Homo sapiens: one gene and its partner. The protein of the gene in region 1 purifies or fractionates together with the protein of each later gene. This does not show direct contact. Each region holds a gene or a part of one and is shown on either strand. Other genes may lie near its edges.

What was found.
Region 2: the proteins of IPO5 (region 1) and TANK purify together in Homo sapiens (tandem affinity purification; one large-scale study listed by IntAct). This does not show direct contact.

Annotation. Positions count from the first base shown.
Region 1 is NC_000013.11:98,012,675-98,016,174, reverse strand, and holds part of IPO5 (importin-5), read right to left. Parts: intron 2,134-3,500; coding exon 1,961-2,133; intron 646-1,960; coding exon 534-645; intron 450-533; coding exon 394-449; intron 1-393. UniProt on the Homo sapiens protein: Functions in nuclear protein import as nuclear transport receptor. Serves as receptor for nuclear localization signals (NLS) in cargo substrates.
Region 2 is NC_000002.12:161,233,428-161,236,730, reverse strand, and holds the end of TANK (TRAF family member-associated NF-kappa-B activator), read right to left. Parts: intron 1,390-3,303; coding exon 1,213-1,389; 3' UTR 501-1,212; downstream 1-500.

The DNA of each region.
Region 1 (3,500 bases):
ACTAAGTAACATGGTGAAAAAGGCCCCAGACCGTCAACAGTGTGACTCTAGGCAATCATTTAACACTGGAATTTTAGGTTACTCATCTTTAATATAGTGAAAGCACCACAAAATACAAATGGTTGTTGTGAGCAGTATGTAAATGAACTAGGTAAACCTCAAGGTGTTTTGTTGAGTGAGGTATTACAACAAAATGCACATAGCACCGAAAGACATATCAGTTTAATTTCAAATTACTTATTCATAAATTAAGAGAGGAAATATATCTGACTCCTCTGCTAAAGACTGATAATTACATCAGAATGACAAGTCACATAAATCAGAAATTGAGGCATTTACAAGTCTTTCAGATGCAAGTGGTCACGTAAGTAAGTTCCAAAGGGAATAACTTACCTCATCTTGTAGTGACTCTTCGACCTGTTCATCATAGTCTTCATCTTGTCTTTTAACTAAAACACACCCAAATAAATGTTTTAAATGATTGCCAAGATGGTCAAGGATTATATTCAGAAATAAAAGCATGGAAAACTTACCTTGTCGTAATTCTTGATTTTTAAAATGTTCTTCAAGCTTTGCTTTCAATATACCTCCCAGTTCTTCAAAGTGTTCATTATTAAGGCATCCATCTCCCATTACTTCAATGCACTAATGAGGTTGAGGAAAGAAAGCAATCCATAAGATTTGGGGTGTTTGGAGTCCAAAGTTAAACTCCACTAAGAATCATATGGAAAAATGAACACAGTTCAGTATCCTGGAAGATTATTTACATATGCTTAGCTTGTATTTGTTAGAATGACAGCATTTTAGAGATTGGAGTTAGAAAAAAATATTTTCTTTTGAACACTACTGAGCATACCTAGGTGCCAGGCATCATGCTTGGTACTGAGGATTCAAAGATGGAAAACACACACACACACACACACACACACACAACCAGCTCCTAAGGAACACAATTGCTATATCCATACTCCGTACACACAACATACAAGAACACTGAAGGAAGGGCATTAGAGGTAGAAGAAATAAAATATAGGCAAAGGTATGGAAGCATGCTGTCTTTGGAAAATCAGAAGCAATTCTGAATTACAGGAGTGTAAATAAGGACATATAAAGATGCTGAGAAACTGTAAATCTTCAATCAAGATTGGAGCAAACTAGAGTTGTGCAAAATGGGAGTGACACTGTATGAGAAAGGAAGTGACTCAATGAAGAGGAAGGCAGTGCTTGAGGAAAGGAGAATGAACTGAGAGGAAAAGAAAGGAGACATCTGGAGTAGCCCAAGTGAGGCTATTTCAATGGCATGAAAAAGAGATGGGGCAATGAAAAAAAAAAAAAAGAGAAGAATTGAGGAAAGTGTAAAGAACAGAAACTGGAGATGATACCCAAGCTTCTATAGTTGGATTATTAAGTGCAAGACTAAAATACTAGAGTATTCAGAATTTCTTCTCTTTTTCCAAAGAATGCATGCTTCCATGCTGCTGCCCATATCATTCCCTCTACCTATACTGCCCTTCCAAGGCAAATTTACCCTCTTTAAAACAAACATAATAATACCAAAATATTAAAACAAAAAATTTAACATTTTTATTTTTTAACAAATCATACACTATAGCATATAAAAATTTATTTAGCTGCCTTACATCTGCAATCCCAGCACTCTGGGAGGCCGAGGTGGATCACCTGAGGCCAGGAGTTTGAGACCTGAGGAACATCTACTAAAAATACAAAAAGTAGCCAGGTGTGGTGGTGCATGCCTATAATCCCAACTACTTGGAAGGATGAGGCATGAGAATTGCTTGAACCCAGGAGGTGGAGGTTGCAGTGAGCTGCGATTGCGCCACTGCACTCCAGCCTGGGTGACAGAGCAATACCCTGTCTCAAATTTTTTTTTTTTACTTTTAGCAAGACTAATAAATGAACATACAACCTTATACATATTTTTTAAGAGAAAAATATTCACCTTTGCAAAAGAATGCATTATTTCTGAGAGGACGTCTGAATCTGGTTCTGTACCAATGGCCTTAATTAGAGCATCACACATAAAATGCCACATCTGTGTGAGATACTCAGGACCACGGACTCTTGCACACTCCAGGAGAAGAGGCATGGATTCCGCTGCTGCCACTCGAACACGTTTCATTGTTAAGGAACCTCAAAAGACTGTTTATTATTTTGCTTAAATGTTAAAGGGTTCAATGCACTAAAAGGAGTGCTAGGCAACTTCTGTTTATCTAAGATACCCAAGAGCTTGTGTTAAATATAAAGCATGTATAAAAATAGAAAAGACATACCTCCTGTCTCCTCTGTCACCTGTAATAGTGGCAGGAATGAGTCCAGCAGCAGTGAAGGGCTGCCTATTGCTCAAATGTAAACCAAAATACAAAAATGACTATGGAAGGACCCATGACCATTAGCATGCCTTAAGCTGTACCTACCTCAAAACCTTAGGTACTATCTGTTTCTAATAAAAGCAACTGAAGTATTTCCCTGAAAAAGACCACCGAGGACCTCTTCCTATGCTGGCCTTTTCAGTTTTTAATAAAGATTAAATTGCCTTTCCCTATCTAATCTCATTTATAAAATAAGGTCTTGATAACTTCCTCTTAAAAGCAATCCCGCTTTGTCCTCTGGCATCCTGGGAAGTTAAGTCTTTGTTGGGTAAAAGCTGTCTTCTGTAAAGGATACCACTATAGGATACCGTAAAAGGAATGATGACAAACGGGCTTTGGAGTCAGACAGATCTGGGTTTGTGTCTGTCTACCACTCTCGTGTGTAAAGGCATAAAAATGTACTGGAAAATATTAATTACGGCTATCATTATGTTGAGAAAGATATTGGAACGCAGATGTGGGTGGATCACCTGAGGTCAGGAGTTCGAGACCTGCCTGGCCAACGTGGTGAAAGCCCGTCTCTACTTAAAAACAAAAACAAACAAACAAAAAATACAAAAAATTAGCTGGGCATGGTAGCGCATGTCTGTGATCCCAGCTGCTCAGGAGGCTGAGGCAGAAGAATCGCTTGAACTTGGGAGGTGGAGGTTGCAGTGAGCTAAGATCGTGCCATGCACTCTAGCCTGGGCAACAGAGTGAGACCCTGTGTCAAAAAAGAATGCAGATGTGCCAAGTGATGTTTCCCCGCAAAGGTGCTATCCACATTTGAAATGTAGGGTTCTCACTGCTACAGAAAGCTGACCATCTATCAGTGGTTCTCTAATCTATTAAGACAGGTCTTGCCAGGCACAGTGCTCAGGTGTGTAATCCCATAACTTTGTGGGGCCAAGGCAGGAGGACTGCTTGAGCCCAGGAGTTTGAGACCAGCCTGGGCAACATAGGCAGACCTTATCTCTTAAAAAAAAAAAAAAAAAAAAAAAAAATCAAATCTAGCTGGGCTTGGTGTTGTGCACCTGGGTCCCAGCTACTTGGGAAGTTGTGGTTTCAGTGCGTCCTGATCACGCCACTGCACTCCAGCCTAGGTGACAGAGTGAGACACCATCTCTTAAA
Region 2 (3,303 bases), on another chromosome or scaffold:
ACTTGCTTCAAGAAGGCTTAAATTTCTGAGAGTTGCAAATCAATGCTTACTTCATAAAATGGAAGCCATGCCTTAAACACTTTTAAGAATCAGGGGAAAACAGAAACCTATAAGGCGAGAATCATAGGGAATAAAAATGAAAGGGAAGTCTCATTTTAAACAAATTTTGCAGCCGTCTGAATTTGGTATCCACTCTCTCAAATGTCTTCAGTGGCCATCAATCAGGCTGCTAACAATGAATAACAAATTTCTCAACAAGAATATGAACATTTCTAATCTAAGTTAACAAATATAGATAGTCCTTGCAGGGTTTTAGATTTTCTCCCGTTAAAAACAAATGTTTCTTTAGAAAGTTTAGTTTGAAGAATAATTCTAAAATTCAAAGTGATTCACTAATTGTAATAAATGCCACCAAATCTGGTCATCACCATTCTATTAGGTTACTGAAATGAAAACATGAATTTTATAAACTTCCCTAAAAATGTGATTCCTTCCTTCCCTTTTTTTTTTTTTTTTTTTACTCAGGAACAAAGGACATACAAATGATCACAACATAAGTACCTCTTAATATTTAATTAATTTCATCATGTAGCTATACACACAGTAAAAATTAAAGCCATGTATATTATTTAAAAATCTAAAGTGTTTAAATAATTCTACCAGTTGTTTTATCACTGGACAAGAAATGTATTAGGTTTGATATTTACAAAGATGTTTATGTTGTCTGCTATTTTCTATTATAGGTTTATTCAAAGAGAATATCACCTATAGCATAAATAATTAAATTTTTCAATAAAAACAAACTAAAAAAACCCTAGAAACATTTGACATCACCAAATTCAACAGCTCTCACTAGAAATCCAAGCAATAAACTTAGATATTTGAAATAAACATAAATTATGATTATATAACTCTAAGTCACATACATAATTTTGAATTATAGTAATAGCACTGTAAACATGAATACAAAGGATTACAGTTTTATACAGAATTTTTTTTGTTTTTCTTCTTTTAGGCTTATTTCTCCTTGAAAGAACAGAATGATCTTTTAAAAAATAAGAGTTATATAGTAAATCCAGAAAAAAATTCAAATAGCTGTGAAACTAGATTTTCCTATAAATGATCTTGAATTTAGTTTACAATCAAGTATTTATAGTATTAAAAACCCAAAATCATCACATAGAACTTGATATGTCTGTTTTCAAATGTGTCTTAAGTCTCTCCATTGAAGTGTGAATTAAGATGCCGAAGGAAATCCCCCCTGGATGTAATGGATGGTGGGAAAACTGCTTGACAGAATTCACATACTCGAGGTATATGCAGTTCTGAGTCTGTGCCACTTAGTACCACCGAGTCACTGTCTTGATTAGGAAAGGGCTTCCAAATGGGCTGCAGGAAACAAACAAAAATATCTGTTACTTATGTTTAAATTCAAATAGCACTGGACTTCAAATTTGAATTTCTGAATGAGTTACGCATGGGCATATATATTGAATTCCCTAATATAAAAGCAAATTACTTTTCCGTAAAGTTAGCATGACATGACTCAATTCGTGGTTTCATAAAGGGCACAACTAAACTTTGATTAAAAGTCACTTGGGACACACACAGTCATGCATTTTATCTTTATATATTTAAAAAGATTGCAGCTTTAGCATGCAATTTTTAATACTCGATCACAACAGCAGTAGTTTTGGAACAATAGCTAATACTCTGGTCTTTTAAATTAAATTCTATCTTTTGTTTTTTACAATAAAAACCTTAAATTATAGGGGCTTTATTAATTACATAGTACACAAGACATGATGTGTGTGTGCATTGCGTCTTAATCAAAATCAATTTCACTACTGTTTATAAGCAAATACAGTGAATACATCATACATGAATCAGCATTATTTTGATTTTTAAAAAGAAAATTTTCCTTTTAAACTACTGAACAAATTTCACTGATGTTATCTTTTGTTTTTAAAAACACAAATATTTAATCATTCAACAAAATCTAACACATGCAGTGTTTTGACTTCTTACTTTGCTTCTGTTATATAATAGGTAGTTTGGCCTTACTCATTCTTGTGGCTGAATAAAGTGAAACTCGTCAATAGTTGCCTGGTTAAAGAATTATGGAAAGTCATAATCTAACAGAACCACCTCCACTATAACCAGCACATAAATACCCTTTCATAACTGCATTTATTCTTTTTTTTAAATTTCTAGAAGGACAAGAAATAGCATTTAGCTTAATAATAGCTACACAATAGATGTCTGTTAACTGGAAAATATTTTCCTGAATTGTGTAAACCAAATTATTTTTTAAAATTTCTTATGTGGACACAGGTAAATTCCTCTGACACAGCTAAATTCTGATATTTTAAGAAGAATCATCTCATAAAGTCAAATTTAAAGAGACCCCTTATCCTCCTATTACTAATATGTTTTTAAAGTCACACATCCTAGTCTAGCACCTGACAAGTGTTACTGTTATTTCCCCTAACTTCTTTCATTCTGGTTAACCAATCATTTACATAAACAGTATATTACTAATGGAAGCACTTGGATTTCACGACATCACTGTCTTCTTATGAACAGTTTACTGGACAGCTGTGTACAATTGGTGTAAATATACAACGTCTGTCTAGGCACCCAGACACATTCAAATATCAGTATGGAGGACTTATAATAATGCTGACTCAATTCCTTTCATAAGAAATGTCAATTTTATTACAAAAATAGTAATATTTAAAATAAATGTTATAAAATTTAGGGTAAAATAACTCTCTGGAAAAACTTCTTTGATAAAAGTAGTAAAAATTGTGAGCATACAAACAAAAATCTAGTTAGAGTTAACTTGATTCTAATTTTAATGTTTTCAGTTTAAACAAAAAAGTACAAATCACTGTAATGGGAAATTGATATGGCCAAAAATAAAAGATTATTAAAGATAATTCTTATTTATATAAAATAGTAAGAAATTAAATCAGAAGCAATTTAGCTTCTAAATTTGGTAAGCCAATCTTCTACTCCCAATTTACCTATTAAATCCATATTCATTTTTCTCTATTAAGAACTTTTAGTTCAGATTTGATCTCTTCATAGAATTTAGTTGGGATCCCACTCACTGACTCAGCAAAGTAAAAAAGAAAATCACATAGAACAATAATAATCTGATATACTTTAGTCTTGGTTATGATAGCTGAATATATAAAATAGATGTTTAGTAGTAATGATTGATAGAAAGTAAAATTTTGAAATATGTAGCCAAAAATTTCACTTGTCTTTGCTACTATCTACAAACAACTCAGGATT